Linked DNA regions of Homo sapiens. The protein of the gene in region 3 purifies or fractionates together with the protein of the main gene of each other region. This does not show direct contact. Each region holds a gene or a part of one and is shown on either strand. Other genes may lie near its edges.

Region 1 (3,500 bases), on a different chromosome or scaffold from region 3:
GCAGGCTCCAGAGATACGATTCTATAGGAAATTTTCGAATTCAGGGTATTGGGCTCATCTGCATCTGTTGCATTGATTTTCATCACAAGAGTATCTGGCATTAGAAATAAAGATGTCTAAGATGAAATTCAACTTTAAGCATATTTACCTGTTATTTTATTTATAATTTTAGCTTGTTCCAAAAAAGATTTCAGGTGCTTATCAAAATCACATACAGTTGACCACAATATAACATTTAACTGGATGAGGACATAAGCGTGAATGGGATATAACAATAGTAAAAACAAGATGAAGGCAAGGCTGAGGGTAGAGTCCTGAAAAATTGCTGTATAAGGGCACAGATTTGTTTATAATAGTATTAGTAGCCAATACAAAGAAAGTAACATGAGCAGGTACATGATCCTGATATCTATTAAGATACAAACAAATCAGGAGAAGCGTAACTATTCCTTACATCATGGTCAAAAAGAAATCTCTCATTCGGGTCCTCATGAAGAGCACTGTGTTGAACAATGTTGTGAATAAATATTACAGTAAAAATAATACAACTTACAGGTCAGCAAACTATAGCCAAAGCTGTAGGGCCAAAGCTAACCAGCCACCTGTTTTTGTAAATGAAGTTTTATTGGACCACAGCTAGGCTCATTTGTTTACATATTGTCTATGGTGCTTTCCTGCAGATAGCAGAGTTGAGTAGTTGCTACAGAGACCTTATCCATCACATTAATCTACCCTATCTGTTCTGAGGGTAAAAGCAATGGCATGTAAAGTCCTTTAAACCTATAAGGAAAGCAGTTCTGAACTGCTTTCTTATCATTTGTTCTGTAGGTAATACTCAACTTTCATTAAGATATGAAATTTAGTGTTTATTTACAGTGGGGATAAAGTAATCTTAGGTATTTATTTATTAAAAAAAAAAAAAAAGACTCTTACGTGCTGCACTCAACTCTTCAACAGACCCAACAAAGACATCCTGTGTGAACACTGGTTCGTTGTCATTGATATCAAGAACCTTAATGCGTAGCTCTAAGGGTTTCTCTACATTGTTTCCTCTTGCATCCAAAGCGTAACCTGTTAGCTGAAATCATGACATAAATAAGATTAGATTTAAGCTAAGAAAACTAAATTACCATACTATGAAAAAATAAAACAAATGACACTTATTATGACAGAAAAACTACAAACTAATAAATCTAAAATTATTCTTCTTACCAGAAAAAATGGTGTTTCTTCTCGATCAAGAATGCTGGTAACATTCAGTTCTCCAGTATCTTTGTTAAAGACAAATATACCAAAAGGTGGCTCTGTAATCCCTTTTCCAGTGTATTTGTAAGTAATTTTGAGTCCTCTTTCTTCTGCAAGATCAGAATGTATCTAACATAAAAATAACAGGAATGTTTCAGGTTGAACTCTCTGTAATTTACTAGATTTGATCTTAGCCAAAAGCCTAAGAAGTGATTCTCTATAATTTACAGGTAAATATTTTTATGGACAATTTCCTTCTGAAGTTCTTTGGTAATACAGGCCAGAGATGACATGACTTGGACTAGGGGAATGGCAGTGGAGTTGAAGAGAAGCAGCAGATTTGGAATATATTTTTGGAATAGAACTGATAGTGTGTGGTACATTTTTGGCTTGAAAAACTGGAGAGAATTATAGCATCAATTACCAAAATGGGTAGAACTTATGAAGAAAAGCTTTGGGGGGAAAAAAATGAAGGGTTTATGTTTGTGCATGCCAACTTTGAAATATAGAGTAGCAACACTATCACATAATTTATCAAAAAAATTGGACCCCTTGAGAGTGAAAACACAGATATTAATTATTAAGCCAGGAGAGCAGGCATAAACCACGACTGTCTCAGGCAGATGAAGATGGTCCCCCTACCTAGTAATAGACACCAGTTCATCTTGAAAATGACATTTTATGACATCCTCTTTTGAGCACTGAACATTTTGTGTTACCAGTGCCAAATCCCTTTACTCTTAGTTAAATCAAAACTCAAAGTTATCTATATTTTTGCCAATGATGCTGCATCTTCCGGAATGGGAAAGAGAATCTTAAAGTTGATACTTTATGCTAAAAAGTAAGCTCTGCTAATTTTCAGATATATCTTGAATATTTAAAAATTCTGTAAGCACATCATACATTTTCCTTAAATCTTAAAGTAGACATAAAAGTCCTCTCACACCACATTTTAGTCATATGCATGTATTTCATGTTCCTCTTTAGGAGGTACCTTGGCAATTGGATTCTTCTTGGACAGATCCTCTCCCTCCCGAAGAGCCACGGGGGCGGTGATCCAGGCGCGCTTTTGCCGCACTAAATGAGGATGTTTAGGAAGCAGCTTATTTTCATTTCTTGTGCTTAAGACCTATAACAATAGAATATTGCCAAAATTTATTATGTGTCATAAATATAGAACATTAGTATGCTGTCCTATAACATAATAAACTTTTAAATAGTGCAAATTTTAAGGTATGCTTCGTATTTCCTATGAGGCTTCATTGTCTAAAAGGGAATATATATATTCTAGCAAACTGCATAGGGCCTCAAGAGATTGTCTCCAAGCTAGTAAAAGTGTAGGGTTTTTTCTGGTTTATTTTTTCTTTTGAGACAGGGTCTTGCTTTGTCACCCAGGCTGGAGTGCAGTGGCATGATCTTGGCTCACTGTAGCCTTGACTTCCCCGGATCAAGCCATCTTCCTGCCTCAGCCTCCTAAGAAGCTGGGATTACAGGCATGCACCACCACATCTGGCTAATTTTTGTATTTTTAGTAGCTATGGGGTTTCACCATGTTGCCTAAGCTGGCCTTGAACTCCTAGACTCAAGCCTCAAGCAATCCGCCCGCCTCAGTCTCCCAAAGTGCTGGGATTACAAGTGTGAGCCACTGTGCCCAGACAGTAGAATTTTGTTTTTAACTGTAAGAAATGATTTCCCAGAGTGAGAGTTTGAAAAGTTTAAAGAATCATTTAGTAGCCTTACAAATTGGCAAAGTAAAAAATAACAGATCATGTCAAAAACGTTTTTTCTTATTAACTGAAAATGAAGTTTCATTTTTCTGTGGTGGTTTGTGGTTTAAAAATAAATTACTAAATGTTTTTTAAGGCTAAATCTTAGTAATCTATTGATATAAACTTGACTAAAACCAGGGAAACTGCCAGTTAATGAATTTATTGTTTTCAGGATTGGGTAAAGAATTAAATTTCCCATTTCATTTTCAGAACCTTAGGCAGAAAACCATTCTATAAATTTCCAGTTGGGTTTTACAGGTGAATATATATTTTATCCAAGGGAAATTTCAATACAGCTGACCTGGGATCTTAAGATCAGAAATAATCCTTATACTAGGTTTGGTTTATCATTTTACTCATTTTGTTGCTCTATGTAATAGGTATTTTACTTCAAAATATGTACTCTGGTTATCACTAGGTCATTGATTTTTTTTTTTACTTGAACAAAATTTTCTATGACAAAAAATTGAAATTACTTTTTCATTT
Region 2 (3,996 bases), on a different chromosome or scaffold from region 3:
CCGGATGTGCGGTGTGGCCCTGGGCTGGCTATTTAACCTCTCTGAGCCCATGAAACAGGGCTGGCAAAACAGTCTCACATGAGTTAAATGAGGAATTGTAAGGCTGTGAAAGTTCACATGCTACTTTTCATTCTAAAAACAGGTACAAACACTTTTTGATTGGCTTTTAGAATCCATTTCTAGGTTTTACATGTGTATAAGACATGTGGAGATGTTCCTGTCACCTCCGAACTAGGCCACAGCTGGGAGGGCCTGGGGCCAACAGTGCCCAGGTCCAGGTTCACCCTCTGAGGGGAGCAGCACAGGCTTTCTACTCCTGCCCCTCTACCAATCACACAACAACCCTGAGGACAGATCACCAGGCACCTCATTTTACAAGGAGCAACGAAGGCTGAGAGGGTGAGGAACTTTCCTAAGGTCACACAGAGGGGTAGGCCCTGCCCAATTCATAGCAATAGCCCCACCAGGCTGTGCATGCCTTGACCCAGGGGATGCCAGGGGAGGTCGGATGTGGGCTGGGTGGTGACGCATTCTGATGGGCGGCTCCCTGGGGACATTCTTGGACGACTCCATCCACAACTCTTCTTGGTCCTGAGCCCAGTGTCAGCCTGTCCTGATGACAGAGCCCCAGCCCCAGCTTCACAGATGGTCTCCTCTGTCCCACATCCCCACCCTGTCCTCTAACTACAAAGGCAGCATCCAGATCCCACCGGCTAGAGTCCTGTCCCTGGCACTGGGCGCTCAGTGATGGTGAATGGCTGCCTCCTGCTGCTCGCCTCCACCACCAGCTCTGGGTTGCGGGAAGCAGAGGCTTGGCCATGCCCTCTTCTGTCCTAGTGTAGGAAGCAAATGGCTGATGGCCCCACAAAACCTGCTGCGGCTCAGTCCCCTGTTTTCCTCAGCCCAGACTCCTCAGAAAGGTCTCTGCACCTTGAAAGCCTGACCTGACAACAGAAATGTCATCTCTTTGAGCCCTGGATGGACAGTCAGGCTTCCTGGGCCTGTCCTGGCTCAGCAGCGTAGAGGCTGCGCTGTCCTAGGCATGGCGCTGCCTCTCTGAGCCTCACTGTCCTCATCTGGGAGATGGGGATGAAGACCGTGGCTGTTATCAGGGTTGTCGGGAGGATGAAGAATTAATGATGCTGTCTGTGGAGGGAGGCTGATGGCCGGGGCCAGGGACCCTCTCCCTCCTCTCAGCCCCACAGCTCCCCGACTTTGGGCTGATCTGTGGTCCTTGGTTCCCCAGACCCCAGACTGTCACTAGCCACAGACAGGAGGCAAAGCAGATGGGTGACCTGACCAATAGTAACTACATGACCATAGACCAAAGAGTTTAGTACTGGAAAAAAAATCTCTGAGATCTTAGGGAATAAATAGCTCCAGGGTTTGATACAAGATATTTGCAGACAGGAAAAGCCGGGCTTTGCCTGGGAGAACAAAGTGGGTCCAGCTGCCCACTGGACCATTCCACAGGACTGGACACTCACCCCATACCAGATCACATCCCAGGTGTTGGGCCCAGGGTGACAAGGCAACAGTCCCTGCCCCAGCGAGCTGAGTTTGCTCCTTCCCCAGCCGCCCCCCTGACAGCCGCACCCCACCCAGGCTCCGCACAGAGAAGAGCCTGCTGTGGACTCAGGGCACGCGACTCAGCTCTGGTCACTCCGATGTGACCACAGGTTTCCACGCTGAACTTTGTCCCTCTCCTCAGTACTGCCCTTATCACAGTGACAGCATCCCGGCCTCTGTTTACTCACCTGTCTCCCCAGGACCAGGCTGTCTTCCCGGGGCAGCCCAGGTGGGCAAAGACATCACCTGATTCTTACTCCTGGGTGTGTTTGGGGCAGGGTGAAGGCAGCGCCTGGGAGTCCACAGTCCCCCACACTCTGCTCCTGACCACCCCGCAGCCCAGGGGGCCCCCATGACCCTTAGACCTTCCCTAACCACGGCGGTCCCACTCCCCTGTGGTTCGCGTCCACCGTCTGTGACTCCCCGTTCGGCCAGGGCCCGGCACAGCCCGCGGATGCGCGCCCCTCCCCTGCAGCCAGCTTACTCCGAGGGTCCCCGCGCGGGCGGCCGCACTCACCCATGTTAACGAAGCTCATGACCAGGTCGGCGCGGCCCAGGCGCCGCTCCGCGGGCGCGCCGTCCTCGTCGTCGTCGCCGGCCATGGCGTGGTACAGGTCCAGCATGAAGAGCGGCGCGGACGCGGGCAGCCGGGAGGCGGCGGGTGGCGCGCGGGGCCGGGGCCGCCCAGGCAGCCCGAGCACCGCCAGGATCTCGCGCTGCACGTCCCGGCGCTCGCGCGCGCCCAGACGTCGCTGGGGACAGCCGGGCGGGGGTCGCAGGCCGGGGCCGCCCCCGCCCAGCGCGCATAGCGCCAGGCCCAGGAGCCAGAGCGGGCCGGGGAGCGCGGTCATGGCAGGCCGGGGGCGCTCAGCTGGGGCGCTCAGCGGGCGCGCATCGGCTCCGCGGCCGACCCAGGGCCTGGGGACGCCCCGACGGCAAGGAGGCTGGGCTCGGCGGGCGGCGGGCGGCGGGGCGGGGCGGGACGGGCGGCGACCGCGGCCTCAGCGCGGTCCCTGGAGCGCCCGCCGCGCGACACCTGTCCTGGCTCCTGGACGAGAGGACGCGGACGCCACCGCCTCGAGGCCGGGGCTACTCTGCGGACTGGGACTCTCGGCCAATCCGTCTGTCGCCGCCGTACCCGCCAGTCCGGCTGTGGCCGCGGTCCGAGCAGCGCAGGGGCGATGGGCGAGCTCCTGCAGCCACCCGCTTGGTGCGGTTCCCGCGAGTCCCTGCCCTGCCCTGCCCAGCGGTCCGCGTCGCCCGCCCCCACCCCGGGACTGACCAATGGGGGGGCGGGGGCGGGGCCTGGGAGCGGGGGCCACGCCTGCGAGGGGGCCCGGGGCTGCGGCCGGTGTCGCGGGTGGGGAGACCCCGAGGTGCTACCTGGGCGTGGCGGGTGGGCAGGCGGCCCGGGCGAGGGGCTCGCAGCCTGGGCGTCAGCGTGGTCATGGCCGTCGTGGCTTCCGCCGCGGGCCTCGGCGCAGAGATCCTAGGGCCGCGGCGCCCTTCCGGTCCCGCCAGTGGTGCCACCCGGCCGCCCCGCCGTCGCGTGCGCGGGTCGCCATGGCATGCTGCAGGCGCCTCCTTCCCGGCACCTGCTCAGCTGCTCCTCCCCGCGCCCCCACCTGGCTCCCGCGTGAGCCTGGGCAGCGCCCCAGGCAGGCCGCCCCCGCCAGCCCTCGCTGCGCGGCGTGCGCCCCCTGCGCCCCCAGTACTGATCCAGCTTCGCGGGGGAGACGCGCACCCGCCTCCTGCCTTTAGCCGGGCCAGGAGCTCTGGGGCCCTTCTGGAGCACCCGGGAGCCACCTGTGCACTTCTCAGTCGCCACGGCCCCGGTGCAGGCCTGGCAGGAGAAGGATCCCCGCGGAAATGCCTCTACTAACTCAGCCCCTTTCTGCACTCTCTGCTCTTCTCTGGGCGCGCTCTCGCCTTACTTATTCCTGTGTGGTTCAGGCGCTGCGGAAGGAGAAGGCACCTAGACTGTACTGGGAAGGCTCCTGGAGTTGACCTGGAGCGCCAGGAAAGGTCAGTGGAGGAAAGTGCTCCAAGCAGAGGGAAGAGCTTGTGCCAAGGCCCTGAGACCCCGGCGGGGGAGCCTAATAATGGCAGGTAACAGTCAGCACTTGCCACGCGCGAGGCATGTTCTCAGTGTGTGTCTTGTGTCATTTCTGTGATGCTTGCACATCGTCAGGGGGTACCTACCACTGGAACCTCCTCTTTTAACAAATGAGGAAACTGAGGCACACAGCGGTTAAGGGACTTACGCTAGGTCACACAGCAGTAGAGCTGGGCTGGGGCAGGGGGCAGCTCCTCAAGTGGAACCTGGAGAGCCCACGGGGCAAATGGCGGAGGCTGGAGGGGCTGGCAAGGGAGGGACTGCAAAGGGCCTCACAGGGGCTAGACGAGGGCCCTGGGCACCAGTGATTA
Region 3 (3,500 bases):
CTCATCTACAGAGCTAGCATTATCTTTATACTCCCTTTACATACCTTGAGTTAACAGTTCAAAAGTATAGCTCTTCACAGCATCTTCATTTTGAGCTACAATAGTATAATGGCCACTGTCTTCTTCCTTAGCACGGATCAGCTTTAATTTGCTTCGATACCTTTTAAAAAAAGGATTTTGTTTCAACAAGCAGTAGCTAAGTAAGTTCCAATTGTTTAAACAATTGTACTCTTCAATTTAAGTTTTATTTTTACTGTAAAAAGTAAAGTCATCTTTTTTTCTTGTCCATATCATCTCTTCTGGAATTCTCAATATATAGTGCACACACTGAAGGTCTGGATCATACACACAATTCTTACAAGAGAAAACCAGACATTCAGAGATGAGCAATGGCCATCTCCAAGAGCTATCAGTTCAGCCACGGCCTGACTTCTGAATGAATAAACACAGCCTACCAACTTTTCTTTAAAAAAATAAAAAATAAAAACCTTTGATTTTTACCTTTTTTAAAAAATACTTGCTTCCCCTAAATATCCATCATTTAGGTGGTTCAGCCAAAAAATGGAATATCACTGGAGGATAGAATGAGGACACTTTCTATGTATTTGTATGTAGCGGTCTGCAGGATATGACAGTCCTACTTGCTTGTATTTTGCTTAAAGAAACTCTGGAAGGTTTCATAAGAACCTAATGAAACTAATGAAGATGTTTCCCTGTGGGGAGGAGGGGAGAACTGGGCAGCTGGGGACAGGAGTACAGTGAGGCTTCTTACAATGCATTCTCTTTTTGTTTGATTATTTTTCAAGCACGGGATTCTATCACCTATTAAAAAAAAGTTATAGGCTGGGTGTGATGACTCACACCTGTAATCCCAGCACTTTGGGAGGCCAAGGTAGGTGAATCACTTGAGGTCAGGAGTTCGAGACCAGCCTCACAAACATGGTGAAACCCCCATCTCTACTAAAAATACAAAAAAAAAAAAATTAGCCAGGCATGGTGGCACATGCCTGTAATCCCAGCTACTCAGGAGGCTGAAGCTGAAGAATCGCTTGAACCCAGGAGGCGGAGGTTGCAGTGAGCCGTGATCGTACCGCTGCACTCCAGCCTGGGTGACAGAGCAAGACTCCATCTCAAAAAAAAAAAAAAAAGTTAGAAAAAATATGCCTCTTCAAAAAAAAAAAATATATGTCTCTTCAAACTTTATTAAAGAGAAACTTCCCCAAAAATATTTTACATGGATTATAAATGACATCTGGTTGTGTGTGTGTGTGTGTGTGTGTGTGTGTGTATGTATGTGCATAAATATAGTATGTGCCCATTTGATTGTCCTTTATAAATCATCACAGTTGAAAAAGCAACTGGAATGGAGAAGAAAAGCATTGGTCATGGAGTGAGAAGATCTCGGGTATTATTACAATGCTCCATGCCTCAGTTTCCTTGTGTGTAAAACGTGATAATTGTACACATAGCACAGAGTCATTGTGAGAGTTAATTAAAGGAGATTGTATGTGTGAAAGCATTTCATAGGCTCCAAAACACTTTGCAAATACTGGGGCACTCAGACCTACGAAGACAGCAGGCTGGACCATACTGGGTGTGCTCCAGGACTGGATTTCCTTAAGAGAGTACCCTGGGGCACACTAGGATGCTGATTACCAAATTATCCTCTGCTGTTTGTTCTCTTCACTTCTTCGGCCAAGAAAACCACTGGTTTTCTTGCTCCAGGAAAGCCAGATCCCCCATCCTGGAGTTTTAAGCTCCAGGAAGCCAGATCCCCCATCTACCATGTTCATCTTTGTATTCACTGGCTCATAACAGGAACTAAAAAATCCACGTTGAAGCATCCTTGAATCACTAAAAGGAAAAGGCAGCTTTCCAGAACCACTCAGTTGGCGAGCCTGTCCTGCCACTGCTATGGATTATGGCTTGCAGACAGTGCTCACACACGTGTTGGAGGTGTTAGCTGTACCAGGGTTGTTACCCTATTCCTCTCTGGCTGCACAGCCTCATGGAAGTTCCTCGTGGAAAGCTGCCCTCCTTGTTGTACACCTTCATTTTGTGTCAACAGAAAGCCTTCCAGATTCAGTATCCCACTTCATTTTTCCTTTACTATTCTATAGAGGCTGTAAAATTCCATTTTCTCAGACATTGCTTCTCAATTACACGTGGAATTTAGTTCACAAAGAAGAAAGCAAATCCTGAGGTGAATGGAACTGATGAGAAAGGCTCTGTTCTTCCTCCTGAAGGCTTGAAATACAGGACTGACTTTGTCTTTCTGAGATGATTTCTGACAAAAGTATAGGGCTGGTTAGCTGGGTGCTGTGAGATGTATCTTCTGACTCTTGGGTTCTAATCACAGCTTAAAACCTTAAGAGGCCTCATGATATCATCTGATCCAATTCCTTGCCTTGAAGGACATAAGGTATTGTTTATCCTACATTGTAGATGAGGAAACTGTGGCTGAGGGGTGACTCATTCAAAACTCCACCACCAATTAAGAGATGAGAGCAATCTACCATTCTGATTAAAAGGTAGGGATCCAAGCAACTCACTGCACATCTCTCTCCTGATTAGCCAGGCTCTACTCTTCTTTCCTGTGGAGTCCTCAATTAGGGCAAATGGGTTCCAGATTAAGCCTATGACGTTAACTTTCACGTAAGGTGATGTGATAACTGCCTCATGGGTGTAATCACCATATCTGTCTACTTGCGATATGGATGATGAACATCAGGGAATATATTCAATCTATTCAATCCTGGTGAGTCCAATTTTACTTCCTTTCTTCCACCCTAGCTGAATCCAGTGACCTGTCTTTCCCCAGGGGCCAGAGCTTTTAGTTCTTTCTTCTCATCTTCTCATTAAATACTTACCAGCATACTAATACCACTTTGCAATGTTATCATTAAAGGGATGTGATTTCAAGCATCTCTTAACTCAGATTGTTACATTTTCTAGACTGACTTTGGGTCTGGGTTGTAAGACACACACAAACCTCAGTCCGCCTCTGATGCACACTAAAAAAAGGCATACTTGGGCAGAGAGTTTCTTTACCTTATTTCCTGAATCTTTTCCACATCAGTGGTGATCTCAGTGAGATTTTCAATCAGAGTCAGATTGTTTTTCAGCCAGGATATCCTGGGAGGTGGGTAGGCCCGCACCTCTACAACAAAATGTTTGACTTCATGCAGGTTGACAGCTTCCAACTGGCTGAAGGTGGGTTTGATTTCAATGAAACCTTTCTCTGTACAGGGAAGAGTTTCCATTAAATAATGATTACCACATATGGATCCCGAGCAGCATGGACAACTGACATTTTAGAAAGCGGAATGTACCATGGACAGAAATAGTGACTTTCTTCATTTCTTTGACCTCCCTGGTAGCCTGGCGGGCAGCACATTCGTAATCTCCACTGTCTTTCACCGTGGCCTCGGGGACCGTCAAAGTGTACACCAATTTGATGGATGGGACTTTGATTTCTTCCAGCATTGTGATGCCTTTGC
Region 4 (3,500 bases), on a different chromosome or scaffold from region 3:
AAGCGATTCTCCTGCCTCAGCCTCCGGAGTAGCTGGGATTACAGGCCTGCACCACCACACCCAGCTAATTTTTGTATTTGTAGGAGAGATGGGGTTTTGCCATGTTGGCCAGGCTGGTGTTGAACTCCTGACCACAAGTGATCCACCTGTCTCAGCTTCCCAAAGTGCTGGGATTACAGGCGTGAGCCACCACACCTGGCCCTTTATGTATTTTCGAAGGAGCCTGGAGCTCTGCACGTATAATCAGTCTGTTTCTCCAAATTAGGAGGTTCGAGCAGAGTGTTTGTTACTTGTAGAGAGGAGTTTATTGCATAGGCAAGGTGAGCAGGAGGGCAGAGTGCTCACACCCTTTCTCCTGTCCTGTAGTTGGAGTGGAAGATGTCCCTCTTTCATACAAACCACTTATGGACCTTGGATATTTTCCTGAGATCACAGCAATGTGTCCCAAGGATTTCCCACATGCTTACTGGAGCAGAAGCACTAACTATTGACTAGGAAAAGGAGATTGTCTCCTAAAGTATCCTGTCAGCTGCTTTGGGGTGGATTATAGAAAGAAGTGAAGAGATGGCCACACATCCCTCGGTGCTTGGTGGAACATAGAGCATATATAGAGGGAGAATAGATTTGTCACTTATTTCAATGCCAGAACCAGGTAGGCACAGAATCTTAGTGACTTTCCAAAGGTTAGCCAGAAACTCAGGGAAGAGGTGACTCTAGGATTTTCCTCCTCTTCAGTGTCAAATTAGTACTTTGCCAAGTAAACTACATATTTTCCTAGACACCTGGAACCTCAATTCTTTCTTCTGTTTCTCATGTTGGAAGCCAATTAACTGGGTTTGGCTTAGAGACATTGAGTCATCTCTCTTTCTCAGAGCTACTGGAATATCCTGTCAATTGGCACACATGGTTGTATCTTATACTCATTGGAAATACAGTTACTATGAGTGACAGAACAACACAAAAGTCCATTCTAAAGGCATGTCATAGACCACATGGGTGTAGGATGTCACAAAGAGCTGATAACGATCAGAAACGCCATTCCTTAACTCAAAGCCAAGGTTTTCTCAGTTTATAGGTCTATTAGTCATGCTGCATATTGTTTCAAAATAAAAGCGCACTATGATTTTAGGGAAAACCACATAGTTATCAAAGATGTGACTGGGTTAATTACTCTTATGTAACTGGGACGTCATTTCCATTTGGGAATGGAAGGCTCTGTGAAACTTGGCAATTGTTTAGGTTGGTGGGCCAGAAATTAATTCCTGTTGTGGACTTTTAGAACAAACCTCAGTAAAACACATCAAAGACTAAGTTCAGGCTTCCCAGTGGAGACAAACTAATTGGCAAGATTAAAAACCAAGTCCAGGCATCCTATCACATGCATAATCTATTTGGCCTCATTAGTAGTTGAAATTAAAAATCAGAATTGACCTATATTAATTGCATTTGCATAGTGCTTATAAAAAATGTCAAAGGATTGATGATAGGGCCATGTCAATAAAAAGCTTATGATCTTGGTTAATTAAACAAGAAAAAGAAGTCTTCATTAGAATATTATCACTCTAAGCATATTGGAAAGAAGATCACAGGCCTTAGTTAATACAGCCTAACTCTCTCTACATTTATTTACAAGAAATCTCAAGATGAAAGCAACATTAAGCACCTCTAGTCATCTTAAATGTCAGCTATATAAACATATTAAGTATGCCAAAGCAAACAAGACACGATTTTCCCTTTATATCCTTCAGACTGTTCAAAATTTCCAAAAATGCCTCCATAATTGTCTTTTAAAATCCCTAACTGTATCCCTCTAAATTCCCTCAACAGCCCCTCTAGTTTAAAAGGAAAACAAAGTAAATCAACTTACCTTCCATAAAGCTAAGGTTAAAATGGCGAGAACCAACAATCCAAGAAGTATTGCTAGTATTATTACCCATAATGGGATTGAGAAGGAAACATTCGGAGTTGCCCAAATAACTGATGTCTTAATCTGAAATGGAAAACAAAGCAAATGAGCTCTAATGCGAAAACTATTTGGTGAAATAAAATAGTAATTACCAGTACAACATCGGAAGTTGATCTGAAAGGATCCATATGACAATTGAAATCATCTAGGGGATATTTGAGAGGTAGCACTCGAACATGAACTCTTAAAAGCTAGCATGTTCCTAGATCTGCTTGGTTCTGTAAAAGTCTAATTAGAGATTTGGTGGGTGGGTGGCTTTGCATCACAGAAACCCTAGAATAGAATTGAGTGCATCAGGAATTGACAAGGTGGAAAGGAATGGCCTTCACTTGGGCTGGAACTTTTATGGGAACAATGGCCAAAAGTAGACTCAATAAAAAACTGAATGAATCTGTCTACCATGTGTCTCCTTAGAACTCAGCTAGCCTCATTGAGAGAGGTAAGCTTGTGAACAACCATGAATCCTTGGATGTGCAAGAAGGGTAGAAATCTCTAATCTAATCCCCTCATTTTACAGGTGAGAAAATTAACTCCCAGAGGGACTAAGTGATTCATTCACACAACGAATTAGTGTCAATACTAGGTCTCTTTATCCCTAGATTCTGTGCTGTATCAGTGAAGGATATCCCAGAGCATGAGGCTAGGCATCTTGTATTTTATGGAAGTAACTGTAGTGTGCAAAGTGAATGTTCAATTTTTTTTGATGCGTTGGAGATGACTTTAATCCTAAATCCAAAGATCAGGCCAGAGCGGTGGCTCATGCCTGTAATCCTAGCACTTTGGGAGGCCAAGGTGGGTGGATTGCCTGAGCTCAGGAGGTCGAGACCAGACTTGGCAACATGGTGAAACCCCATCTCCACTAAAGATACAAAAAATTAGCTGGGTGTGGTGGCGCACACCTGTAATCCCAGCTACTCAGGAGGCTGACACACGAAAATTGCTTGAACCTGGGAGGTGGAGGTTGTAGTGAGCCAAGATCATGCCACTGCACTCCAGCCTAGGCAACAGGGTGACACTCTTCTTTCTCCTTCCCGCCAAAAAACAAAAACACAAAAACAAAGATCATATGGGGACTGGAGCCCATTTCATCCCGCACTGTTGCAAGGGGGCTTAGAGGAAAATGAGACCTTCCCAATCTGACTGCATGCTCAGTGTCTATGAACCACTCCCTATGTGGGCAGAAGCACTTCTATTGCTCCTGTGTTGGAGGCCTGTGCCTCCGGAGGCCGAGGCAGCAAAGAAGCTGCAGATTCCCAAGGAGAGACCCAGCCATGCTGCTAAAACCTTTTGTCAAAGAAAAGAGCGCTACATTATTCTTGGATGCAGACATTATTCACTAACGTAGTATTCCGGTTTTATCAGAGTGGCAAGCATTGCCTCCACTCAGCTGGTCTAAGGTCTCCTAGTTTTAATTGTGTTGGTTGAAAGGATCATTTCAATCCTGAAACACACTCAAGAACTCCAGGACACATTCTATAACCCACCCGTCAGGAGAGGCTGAGACTAATGACTAAGGTTGGCGGCTCTGAGATTT
Region 5 (3,500 bases), on a different chromosome or scaffold from region 3:
CAACATAGTGAAACCCCGTCTCTACTAAAAATACAAAAATTAGCAGAACGTGGTGGTGGGCACCTGTAGTCCCAGCTACTCCGGAGGCTGAGGCAGGAGAATCACTTGAACCTGGGAGGCGGAGGTTGCAGTGAGCCAAGATCGCGCCATTGCACTCCAGCCTGGGCAACAAGAGCAAAACTCCATCTCAAAAACAAACAAAACAAAACAAAAAAACAAAAAGAAACATCCCCCCTCCAACAAATACATGTTATAGCAAATGGAAAACATATGTGTGTGTATTATAAAAATATTAATAACTGCGTCTTCATTATTAAGCCCCTGAATACTAGACAAGATGCATAGAAAAGCTAGATTGTGTTGAGTTGTAGCTCACCAGGAGCCTCAGAAAGAATTAACCGCGAGGCTAGGCGCGGTAGCTCACACCTGTAATCCCAGCATTTTGAGAGGCCAAGGTGGGAGGATCGCTTGAGCCCAGGAGTTGGAGATCAGCCTGGGCAACATGGCAAAAACCTGTCTCTACCAAAAATACAAAAATTAGCTGGGCTGGGCACAGTGGCCCACGCCTGTAATCCCAGCACTTCGGGAGGCCGAGGCGGGTGAATCACGAGGTCAGGAGATCAAGACCATCCTGGCTAACAAGGTGAAACCCCGTCTCTACTAAAAAAATACAAAAAATTAGCCAGGCGTGGTGGCTGGTGCCTGTAGTCCCAGCTACTTGGGAGGCTGAGGCAGGAGAATGGCATGAACCCGGAAGGCAGAGCTTGCAGTGAGCCGAGATCAGGGGCCACTGCACTCCAGCCTGGGCAACAGAGCAAGACTGTGTCTCAAAAAAAAAAAAAAAAAAAAAAATTAGCTGGACATGGTGGCACACACCTGTAGTCCCAGCTACTCAGGAGGCTGAGGTGGAAGGATGGTTTGAGTCAGGGAGGCGGGGGTGGCAGTGAGCTGAGATGGCGCCATTGCACTCCAGCCTGGGTGACAGAGCCAGATCCTGACTCAAAAAAAAAAAAAAAAAGTTAATTGCTTACACTACATGAAAAACAAAAGTGTTTCTGTGAAACCTAAAATAAATATTTTTTCTTAAGATGCTGCTAAAACTTTGTTTCAAACATGCACAAGTTCAAGAGAAATAATTGACAATAAGGACGGTGAAGTGAGGTTTTCAAAGTGAGGTGCATTCAATGTAGAGAACAATCCTTTAGTCTGAAATCACATCCTTAGTATTTTGGATGAAAATTTATTTCTTCTCTTGTCAGCCCTGCTTTTTTTTTTTTTTTCTTTTTTTAATGTGTTTCCACTAAAACCAATAGCCTAGGGCCACCATTCTAGAATGTCTAGGTGGGCTCTTCATTTGTGCCATCTAAATCACAAGAAGGCTGGGTGCCAATTTTTCAATTAATATTCAGAGCTTTAAAATGTTCCTCTTTTCTTTGATCTCATATCAACATACATAAACATTTCTTGCCTAAGTAAATAGTCAGAATACCCTGAAGGAGGCTTGTTGTAAAAATTTTTCTTTGTAACATTATTTATAATAGCAAAAAGCTGCAAACAATTTCAATGTCGAACAAGAAGAAAATATAGTATAGTATGGCTGCATGAGGAAATCATGGCCATGTATTTTCAGCACGCCTTGTACTTTACCTGGTAATAACAGTACCCTTTGTTGAGTGTTTACTACATGAGAGGCACCACGTAAAACAACAAAATAACATTTTTTAGAGAATATTTAATGATAAAGGAGAATGGTCACACTATAATGTTAAATCAAAAAGGCAGGATAGAAATCTACAGATAGCCAATTCTAGAAACAACAACGTGTATGTGAGCGCGTTCACGCATAAACAATAAACAATAGAAAGAAATATGCCAAAATGTTATCAATGGTGATCTCTAAGAAGTGAGATTATTGCTGATTCTTACTTTTTATATTTTTGTGCATTCTAAAATTGTCCTAAAATGAACATCTATAATTTTTATAATCACAAAGAAATATTATTTTTAAAAGATTAGATCATATTTCTTTAGTTCCTCACAGCAAATGCCTTCATTGAGCAATAATTTAATACTCTGCCCTTTCTCTTTTTCTTGTCCTGGTATAGTTTCTGTTTCTTTTTTGAAAACATCTCCTAAAGGCATTCTGTTTTATGAGGTTCAATACCAATGCCCCTTGACTTACGGTGGGGTTACATCCCAATAAACTCATCGTAAGTTGAAAACATTCTAAGTAGAAAATGCATTTAATACACCTAACCTACTGAACACCACAGCCTAGCCTAGTCTATCTTAAATGTGCTCAGAACACTTCCATTAGTCTATAGTTGGGCAAAATCATCTAACACAAATCTACTGTATAATAAAGTATTGGATACCTCATATAATTTACCAAATATGTACCAAAAGTGAAAACCAGGTTGGTTGCAATGGGTACTATGATAGAGTTGAAAAATCTTAAGTCAAACGATCTTAAATCGGAGATCGTCTGTATATCTTTTTGAAATGTCTTTAAGTTTGCTTCCAGAAAAAAACACTTTCTCCTTTTCCTGACTAATAAAAAGCTGTGCATCTTTTGATCATACAAAGACAGCTATGGATCACTTTAAGGTTCCACTTTTGCCTTGAGGACAAAAGGAAGCTCAGAACTGGATTTAATGCTACATCACAGCACACAATCATTTCCCTAAGTTTCTGGTATATTGCATGTGCTTTGTAAGGGCAGAGACTGAGCTGTGTTTGTCTCTGTATTTTCAGCACGCCTTGTACTTTACCTGGTAGTAACAGTACCATTTGTTGAGTGCTTAATACAGGAGAGGCACCATATAAGCATTTTATACACATTACTTCATGTAGCCTTCCTAACAACCCTACTGGGTAGGGACTACAATAATCTCTGCTGGTAGAATATTTACTTATTATATGGATATGAATGAATTAATGGATACAGTAAATGCCTCTTGATCTTCCTTTTTTTTTTTTTCACCCAGGCTGGAGTGCAGTGGTGGGATCTTGGCTCACTGCCACCTCTGCCTCCCAGGTTCAGGCAATTCTCCTGCCTCAGCCTCCCAAGTAGCTGGGATTACAGGTGTCCGCCACCATGCCTGGCTAATTTTTGTATTTTTAGTAAAGACGTGGTTTCGCCATTTTGGACAGGGCTGGTCTCGAACTCCTGACCTCAAGTGATCCGCCCTCCTTGGCCTCCTAAAGTTCTGGGATTACAGGCATGACCCACTGCACCCAGCCCCTCCTGATCTTCTTTTATCTTTATATTAAGGTTATCACATAAATGTCTTTTAAAAAAAATCAAATCATATCCTCTGTAGAAAAGGCCAAGGAGATCGTGATGTACATTTTTGTGTCTTACCTGCCTAGAATCCTTTCTCCTTTCTTCACTGTACACTGCATCTTGATTTCCCTTTCAAGAGCCAACCTTTTCCAATTCTCAGTCTATGTGGTTTGTGGAGGGCTGAACATACACAAGCACATGCATATACACACAG
Region 6 (3,500 bases), on a different chromosome or scaffold from region 3:
TTTGCGTAGGTTCATTCTATGATGTTTGCACAATGACAAAATTGCCTAACAACATATTCCTCAGAACATATCCCTGTCATTAAATGATACATGACTGTATAGTGCATGTATTCAGACATGGATGTATCTGTGTATAGATATGCATATATATGTGTAAAATATAATAGGGAGATAGTAAGATGGTAGCCATATTTGCTGGCCACTCTATATTGTGGAACACATGTAAGTTTTAGCTTCTAAAAGTTATTTTGGGGGGAGGTAGAAGCCTCTTGGGTATAATTTAATATTCAAAATAGTCATGGTATATATATTATACATATAACATTTGTTGGAGAGTGATTCTTCAGGCACTTAATGTGGTAGATGTTATTGAGATTGAAAGAGAAAAAAAGAGTAAGTAGTCACACAGTAATTTTGGCAAGAATCTTGGAAGCATAATCATCATCTGGAATTGAAAACATCTGGCACTGATGTTGTGTCTTGTCAATATCATTAAAATAGCAAAGACAGATGTAAAAAATGCACATATTTTTTAAGTGCTTAAGATTGATTTATAGAGATGACTAATAAATAGCATTTTTTGCATGAGAGCCTATAATTACAATCATAATTTGAAATCTGAATGTTTTTAGTAATTCAAATGTGTTATTTTATTAGAAAAATAAGTAATTACAAGAACAGCTAATTTACAGTATTTATTTATTATGATAGTATTTATTATAAACAGAAAAAATGGCAGCAAGGTGGTAAATGGAAGTAGAGGAAAACATAAGCATTAAGTTGAAAGGCACTGATATGGTCTGGTTCTGTGTTCCACCCAAATTTCATCTTGAATTGTAATCCAAATTGTAATACCCATGCATTGTGCAAGGGATCTCATGGGAGGTGATTAGGTCATGAGGGCAGTTCCCCCATGCTGTTCTCGTGATAGTGAGTGAGTTCTCATGAGACCTGATGGTATTATAAGGGGCTTTCCCCCACTTCTCTCTGCACTTCTATCTCCTGCTGCCATGTGAAGAAGGACAGGTTTGCTTCCCCTTCTGCCATGATTGTAAGTTTCCTGAGGCCTACCCAGCCATGTGGAACTGTGAATCAATTAAACCTCTTTCCTTAGAAATTACCCAGTCTCAGGTATTTCTTCACAGCAGCATGAAAACAAGCTAACACAGTAAATCAGTACTGGATAGTGTGGTGCTGCTGTAAAGATACCTGAAAATGTGGAAGCGACTTTGGAACTGGGTAACAGGCAGAGGTTGGAATGGTGTGAAGGGCTCAGAAGAAGACAGGAAGATGTGAGAAAGTCTGAAACTTCTGAGACTTGTTGAATGGTTTTGACCAAAATGCTTATAATGATATGAACAATGAAGTGCAGGCTGAGGTGGTTTTAGATGGAGATGAGAAATGTGTTGGGAACTGGATAAAGGTGTCTCTTGCTATGTTTTAGCAAAGAGACTGGTGGCATTTTGCCTCAGCCCCAGAGATCTGTGGAGCTTTGAACTTGAGAGAGATGATTTAGGGTATCTGGCAGAAAAAATTTCTAACTGGCAAAGGGCTCAAGAGTAAACAGAGCAAAAAAATTTGGAAAATTTGCCTCCTGATGATGTAACAGAAAAGAAAAACCCATTTTCTGAGGAAAAATTTAAGCCTGTGGCAGAAATTTGCATAAGTAACTAGGAGCCAAATGTTAAACATGAAGACAATGGGGAAATGTCTCCAGGGCATGTCAGAGACTTCACAGCAGCCCTTCCTGTCACAGGCCTGGAGGCCTAGAAGAAAAACGTTTCATGGGCTGGATCCAGGGCCTCCCTGCTGTGTGCAGCCTTGGACTTGGTGCCCTGTGTTCCAGGTGCTCCAGCCGTGGCTAAAAGGGGCCAAGTTACAGCTCAGGCCATTGCTTAAGAGGGTGCAACCTAAGTCTTGGCAGCTTCCATGTGGTGTTGGTCCTGCAGGTGCAAAGAAGTCAAGAATGAGATTTGGGAAACTCTGCCTAGATTTCACAGGATGTATGGAAATGCATGGATGTCCTGGCAGAAGTCTGCTGCAGGAGAAGAGCCCTCATGGAGAACCTCTGCTAGGGAAGTACAGAAGGGAAATGTGGGGTGAGAGCCCTCACAAAGTAATGGAGTAGTGGCCAGAGCCTCCTGTAGGGGCACTGCATAGTGGAGCTGTGAGAAGAGGGCCACCATCCTCAAGACTCCAGAATGGTAGATCCACTGACAGCTTGCACTGTGCTGGAAAAGCCGCAGACACTCAATGCTGACCTGTGAAAGCAGCCAGGAGTGGGGCTGTACCTTGCAAAGCCACAGGAGCAGAGCTTCCCCAGGCTTTGAGAGCACACCTCTTGTATCAGCATAACCTGGATATGAGACATGGAGTCAAAGGAGATCATTTTGGAACTTTAAGGTTTAATGACTACTTTATTGAATTTTAGACTTGCATGGGGCCTGTAGCTTCTTCGTTTTGGCCAATTTCCCCTTTTGGAATGGGTGCATTTCCCCAATGCCTGTACCCCAATTATATTTTGAAGTAACTAACTTGCTTTTGATTTTCCAGGTGCATATCTGGAAGAGACTTGCTTTGTCTCAGATGAGACTATGGACTTGAACTTTTTTTTTTTTTTTTTGAGACGGAATCTCGCTCTTTTGCCCAGGCCGGACTGCAGTGGTGCTATCTCGGCTCACTGCAAGCTCCGCCTCCTGGGCTCACACCATTCTCCTGCCTCAGCCTCCTGAGTAGCTGGGATTACAGGCGCCCGCCACTGTGCCTGGCTAATTTTTTGTATTTTTAGTAGAGATGGGGTTTCACCGTGTTAGCCAAGATGGTCTTGATCTCCTGACCTCGTGATCCACCTGCCTCAGCCTCCCAAAGTGCTGGGATTACAGGCATGAGCCATCGCACCCAGCCGGACTTGGACTTTTGAGTTAATGCTGAAATGAGTTAAGACTTTGGGGAACTGTTGGAAAAGCATAATTGTGTTTTGAAATTTGATAAAGATGACATTTGAGAGGGGTCAGGGTCAGAATGATATGATTTGGCTCTGTGTCCCCACCTAAATCTTATGTTGAATTGTAATCTGAATTATAATCCCTATGTGTTGGGAGAGGGACCTCATGTGAGGTGACTAGGTCATGGGAGCAGTTTTCCCATGCTGTTCTTATGATAGTGAGTGAGTTCTCACAAGACATAAGGGTTTTATAAGTGTTTTTTCCCTCTTTCCCCTGCACTTCTCTCTCCTGCTGCCATGTGAAGAAGGACATGTTTGCTTCCCCTTCCACTATGATTATAAGTTTCCTGAGGCCTCCCCAGCCATGTGGAACTGTCAGTCAACTAAACCTCTTTCCTTTATAAATTACTCAATCTTGGATATGTCTTCATAGCAGTGTGAAAATGACTAATACATGCATTAATCTTATTGACACCAGAGAATGGTTCACTATTAGTAAAGTTTTCCACTATATAATTTAAATATAACATTTAAGATAGACTTCATTTTTTTGAAT
Region 7 (3,500 bases), on a different chromosome or scaffold from region 3:
AGGCAGGAAAAGCAGTGAGGAGGCTGGGGGCATCATTTGGGTCAGAGGAAGGGGCCTGAGCAGGCTTATGGAGACGGGGGACAGATGGTAGTGGCTTGTACCAGGTGAGGGAGCAGGAGGAGACACAAAGAGGCCTGTATGGATTTAAACCCTGGGTAACAGGCAAGAGGAGGAATCATTAACGTGGCAAAGGAGTCAAGAGGCTGGCAGCTGAGGGCATTTGACAGGCAGAGAAGACCAGTGTGGCTGGAGTAGGGTGAGTGAGACCAGAGGAATGGGCAGAGTCCCATCACACAGGGCTAGGAGCATGTGGGACTCTATATTCAGGTCACTGATGAGCCGATACAGTGGTGTGATCCACTTGACTTTTTTTCAGACATGGTCTCACTCTGTTGCCCAGGCTGGAGTGCAGTGGTTCACTGCAGCCTCGACCTCCTGGGCTCAAACAATTCTCTTGCCTAAGCCTCCCAAGTAGCTAGGACTACAGGTGCATGCCACCACATAGAGATGAGGTCTTGCTATATTGTCCAGGCTGGTCTTGGACTCCTGGGCTCCAGTGATCCTCCCACCTCAGCCTCCCAAAGTGCTGGGATTACAGGTGTGAGCCACCACACCTGGCTAGGTTTACATTTTTAGAATATCCCTTGGAAAGTGGTTGGAGAGTAGCAAAAGTGTGTTGTTTGGTAAAATATCTCTGGAAGGAAACTTCAGACAATAGTAACAGCAGTCTTCTTGGCAGGCAACCTGGGAGACAGGGATAAATGGGAGACTCCCTGTTTATAACATACCCCTTTGTACTTTCTAAGTTTTATACTATGTACATGTATTCATTGACTGAATAAATAGCTTTATAAAGTCGTTTTTATAAAAGAGAAGGTTGGGAGGAGCTATCAGGTAGCAACTGCAGATGTCTAAGGAAGAGGTCATGGTGGTCATTTGGACTGGGTGCTGGTGGTGGAGTCAAAGTGGACCAAGTCAAGAGACTTTTAGGACAATGAATTAATTGTGGAGAGGGACTGAATGTGGGGGTGAGGAAGTAGGAAGCAGCAAGGATGATCCCTGGCTTCTAGGTTGAGTCGTAGGTTGGATGAAGTGAGGTGGGAAAGACTGGATAAACAGGTTTAGGAAAGATGTAGGTTATGGAGGAGGGGATGAACTTGGCTTCTGACAAGGTGAGTTTGAAACATCCCTGGGATATCGGGTGGAGAGCAAGCTGGCATCTAGGGATAGATTTGGTTGTATCACCCCAGCGAGGAGGGCAGGAGTTCCAAGAATAGAAAGAGGTGCTGAGAAGGAGCTGGATGGGAGAGGAGAAGCACCTCAGGATGGTGGAATCCCTGGGAGCTCTTGAACCAGAGGTGGAGGGAACTGCAAGAGACACAGGAGATATTGGCAGAATGGTGTCAGGTAATCTGAGGGACAGAGGAGAGAAATAGGGTCATGTTACTGGGAGGCCAAGGACAGTGAGTTCCAGGAAATATTCTGGAGCAGTGAGAAGGATCACAGGTATCTTGGAAAGAACCGTTTGTCCTGTGGGTGGGGGCAAGAGCCAAACTACAAAGCTAGACTAATGGAGGAGGCTTCTAGTCAGGCAGGGGGCTCACAGCCCTCTCCACCTCATCCCACAGACGGAGTGCTTTAACCATGTGCGGTTCCTGCAGCGGCTCAATTCTACCCACCTCTATGCATGTGGGACTCACGCCTTCCAGCCCCTCTGTGCAGCCATTGTGAGTATACCTGTGTTGTGCCAGATCTCTGTTGACTTCATTAGGGATGGGATCATGTTCAAGATGCCAAAGAAGAGACTCAGAGCCAGTGAAGGAGACGGATGGTTTATTAAGGGGACTTCCATACAGGGCACTCCAGTGGCGGCGGGCTGCACTGGAGAACCATTCCCCTTTGTAAAAACCATGCAGTTTTTATAGCATTTTCACTTAGCATCCTCCCCCTAATCACCTCCACCTGGCAAACTTCATTTAACCCAAAACAAAGGGCCTTGATCCCCTGGACAGCATGTGTTCCACAGGATGGGCTAGGGGCTCAGATGTTCTTCATAGATAAGGAGTGAATCTCTAGGTTGGCCACTTGCAGATTTGGAACTCCAAACATACATTGTTTTGAGGCCATAAGGTCATTCTCAGGGGATGCTTAAGTTATTGCTGTCAGGTGCATCTGCCATACAACCTGCCCCTATCCCTGATCGCTGATCCCTGACCCCAGACTGATCTGACTTTGAGCCACTGTCCCTGCCTGTCTTCGGAACCACTTACTGCTGGTTCCTTGTTCCCTAGGATGCTGAGGCCTTCACCTTGCCAACCAGCTTCGAGGAGGGGAAGGAGAAGTGTCCTTATGACCCAGCCCGTGGCTTCACAGGCCTCATCATTGGTGAGCAGGCCTTCTTCCCTATCACAGACATGGTATTTTTAGGATGTGGATCTCATCTCTAGGACCTGCCACCATGTATATGTCATGTGCCCTGTTGAATATGACATGTCTCTCATGCCTGGAATATCCCCACGCCAGATGGAGGCCTCTACACAGCCACTAGGTATGAATTCCGGAGCATTCCTGACATCCGCCGGAGCCGCCACCCACACTCCCTGAGAACTGAGGAGACACCAATGCATTGGCTCAATGGTTAGGAGGATGAGGCACAGGATGATGGGGGGTAGGGGACTATTTCTTCATTTTTACTCCCTTGGCCAGCTGACCACCCCACCCCCAAATCCCCAGGTGAGCCTGTCCATTCCATTCCTGTGTGTTGTCAAGTGAGGGGTCAGCCTCAGAGTGAGGGAAAGGAATCCCCAGCCTGTCTCAAAAGCCTCTCAAACTGCCTGACCCACAGATGCGGAGTTTGTGTTCTCCGTCCTCGTGCGGGAGAGCAAGGCCAGTGCAGTGGGTGATGATGACAAGGTGTACTACTTCTTCACGGAGCGTGCCACTGAGGAGGGCTCTGGCAGCTTCACTCAGAGCCGCAGCAGTCACCGTGTGGCCCGTGTGGCTCGTGTCTGCAAGGTGGATTGGGCTGACGTTGGGGCACGGGTATAGAGGCTGGACCTCTGACCCTGGCCCCTTATCCCGTGCCTCTACCTCCCCAGGGAGACCTGGGAGGGAAGAAGATCCTGCAGAAGAAGTGGACTTCCTTCCTGAAAGCCCGTCTCATCTGCCACATTCCACTGTATGAGACACTGCGTGGGGTCTGCAGCCTGGATGCTGAAACCTCAAGCCGTACACACTTCTATGCAGCCTTCACGCTGAGCACACAGTGGTCAGTGCAGGGACAATCGGGAGGCAAGAAACTGCGGACAGCATAGGGGCTGGAGCAGAGGTCAATGAGGATGAGATAGGATCCACTGTGGGGAGGTCTGGCTGCAAAGTGAGAATTTTTTTTTTTTTTTAAGAGGGAGTCTTGCTCTGTTGCCAGGCTGGAGTGCAGTGGCGCGATCTCGGCTCACTGCAATCTCCGCCTCCCGGGTTCAAGTGATTATCCTGCCTCGGCC

Evidence for each region.
Region 1: the proteins of PDGFRA (region 3) and DSG2 purify together in Homo sapiens (affinity purification with mass spectrometry; one large-scale study listed by BioGRID and IntAct). This does not show direct contact.
Region 2: the proteins of PDGFRA (region 3) and BMP8B purify together in Homo sapiens (affinity purification with mass spectrometry; one large-scale study listed by BioGRID and IntAct). This does not show direct contact.
Region 4: the proteins of PDGFRA (region 3) and ITGA8 purify together in Homo sapiens (affinity purification with mass spectrometry; one large-scale study listed by BioGRID and IntAct). This does not show direct contact.
Region 5: the proteins of PDGFRA (region 3) and GALNT12 purify together in Homo sapiens (affinity purification with mass spectrometry; one large-scale study listed by BioGRID and IntAct). This does not show direct contact.
Region 6: the proteins of PDGFRA (region 3) and SEMA3D purify together in Homo sapiens (affinity purification with mass spectrometry; one large-scale study listed by BioGRID and IntAct). This does not show direct contact.
Region 7: the proteins of PDGFRA (region 3) and SEMA4G purify together in Homo sapiens (affinity purification with mass spectrometry; one large-scale study listed by BioGRID and IntAct). This does not show direct contact.

The regions. Positions count from the first base shown.
Region 1 is NC_000018.10:31,518,677-31,522,176, reverse strand, and holds part of DSG2 (desmoglein-2 preproprotein), read right to left. Parts: intron 2,375-3,500; coding exon 2,240-2,374; intron 1,375-2,239; coding exon 1,213-1,374; intron 1,079-1,212; coding exon 934-1,078; intron 95-933; coding exon 1-94.
Region 2 is NC_000001.11:39,786,066-39,790,061, forward strand, and holds the start of BMP8B (bone morphogenetic protein 8B preproprotein), read right to left. Parts: upstream 2,801-3,996; 5' UTR 2,421-2,800; coding exon 2,087-2,420; intron 1-2,086.
Region 3 is NC_000004.12:54,267,293-54,270,792, reverse strand, and holds part of PDGFRA (platelet-derived growth factor receptor alpha isoform 1 precursor), read right to left. Parts: coding exon 3,333-3,500; intron 3,242-3,332; coding exon 3,052-3,241; intron 161-3,051; coding exon 45-160; intron 1-44. UniProt on the Homo sapiens protein: Tyrosine-protein kinase that acts as a cell-surface receptor for PDGFA, PDGFB and PDGFC and plays an essential role in the regulation of embryonic development, cell proliferation, survival and chemotaxis.
Region 4 is NC_000010.11:15,517,423-15,520,922, forward strand, and holds part of ITGA8 (integrin alpha-8 isoform 1 preproprotein), read right to left. Parts: intron 1,991-3,500; coding exon 1,868-1,990; intron 1-1,867. UniProt on the Homo sapiens protein: Integrin alpha-8/beta-1 functions in the genesis of kidney and probably of other organs by regulating the recruitment of mesenchymal cells into epithelial structures.
Region 5 is NC_000009.12:98,814,170-98,817,669, reverse strand, and holds part of GALNT12 (polypeptide N-acetylgalactosaminyltransferase 12), read right to left. Parts: intron 1-3,500. UniProt on the Homo sapiens protein: Catalyzes the initial reaction in O-linked oligosaccharide biosynthesis, the transfer of an N-acetyl-D-galactosamine residue to a serine or threonine residue on the protein receptor.
Region 6 is NC_000007.14:85,177,057-85,180,556, forward strand, and holds part of SEMA3D (semaphorin-3D precursor), read right to left. Parts: intron 1-3,500.
Region 7 is NC_000010.11:100,976,004-100,979,503, forward strand, and holds part of SEMA4G (semaphorin-4G isoform 1 precursor), read left to right. Parts: intron 1-1,628; coding exon 1,629-1,727; intron 1,728-1,816; exon of another isoform or gene 1,817-2,291; coding exon 2,292-2,385; exon of another isoform or gene 2,386-2,523; coding exon 2,524-2,637; exon of another isoform or gene 2,638-2,814; coding exon of another isoform or gene 2,815-2,845; coding exon 2,846-3,015; exon of another isoform or gene 3,016-3,098; coding exon 3,099-3,268; coding exon of another isoform or gene 3,269-3,369; intron 3,370-3,500. Other genes in the region: MRPL43 (large ribosomal subunit protein mL43), read right to left, coding at 2,815-3,008. UniProt on the Homo sapiens protein: Cell surface receptor for PLXNB2. May play a role in axon guidance.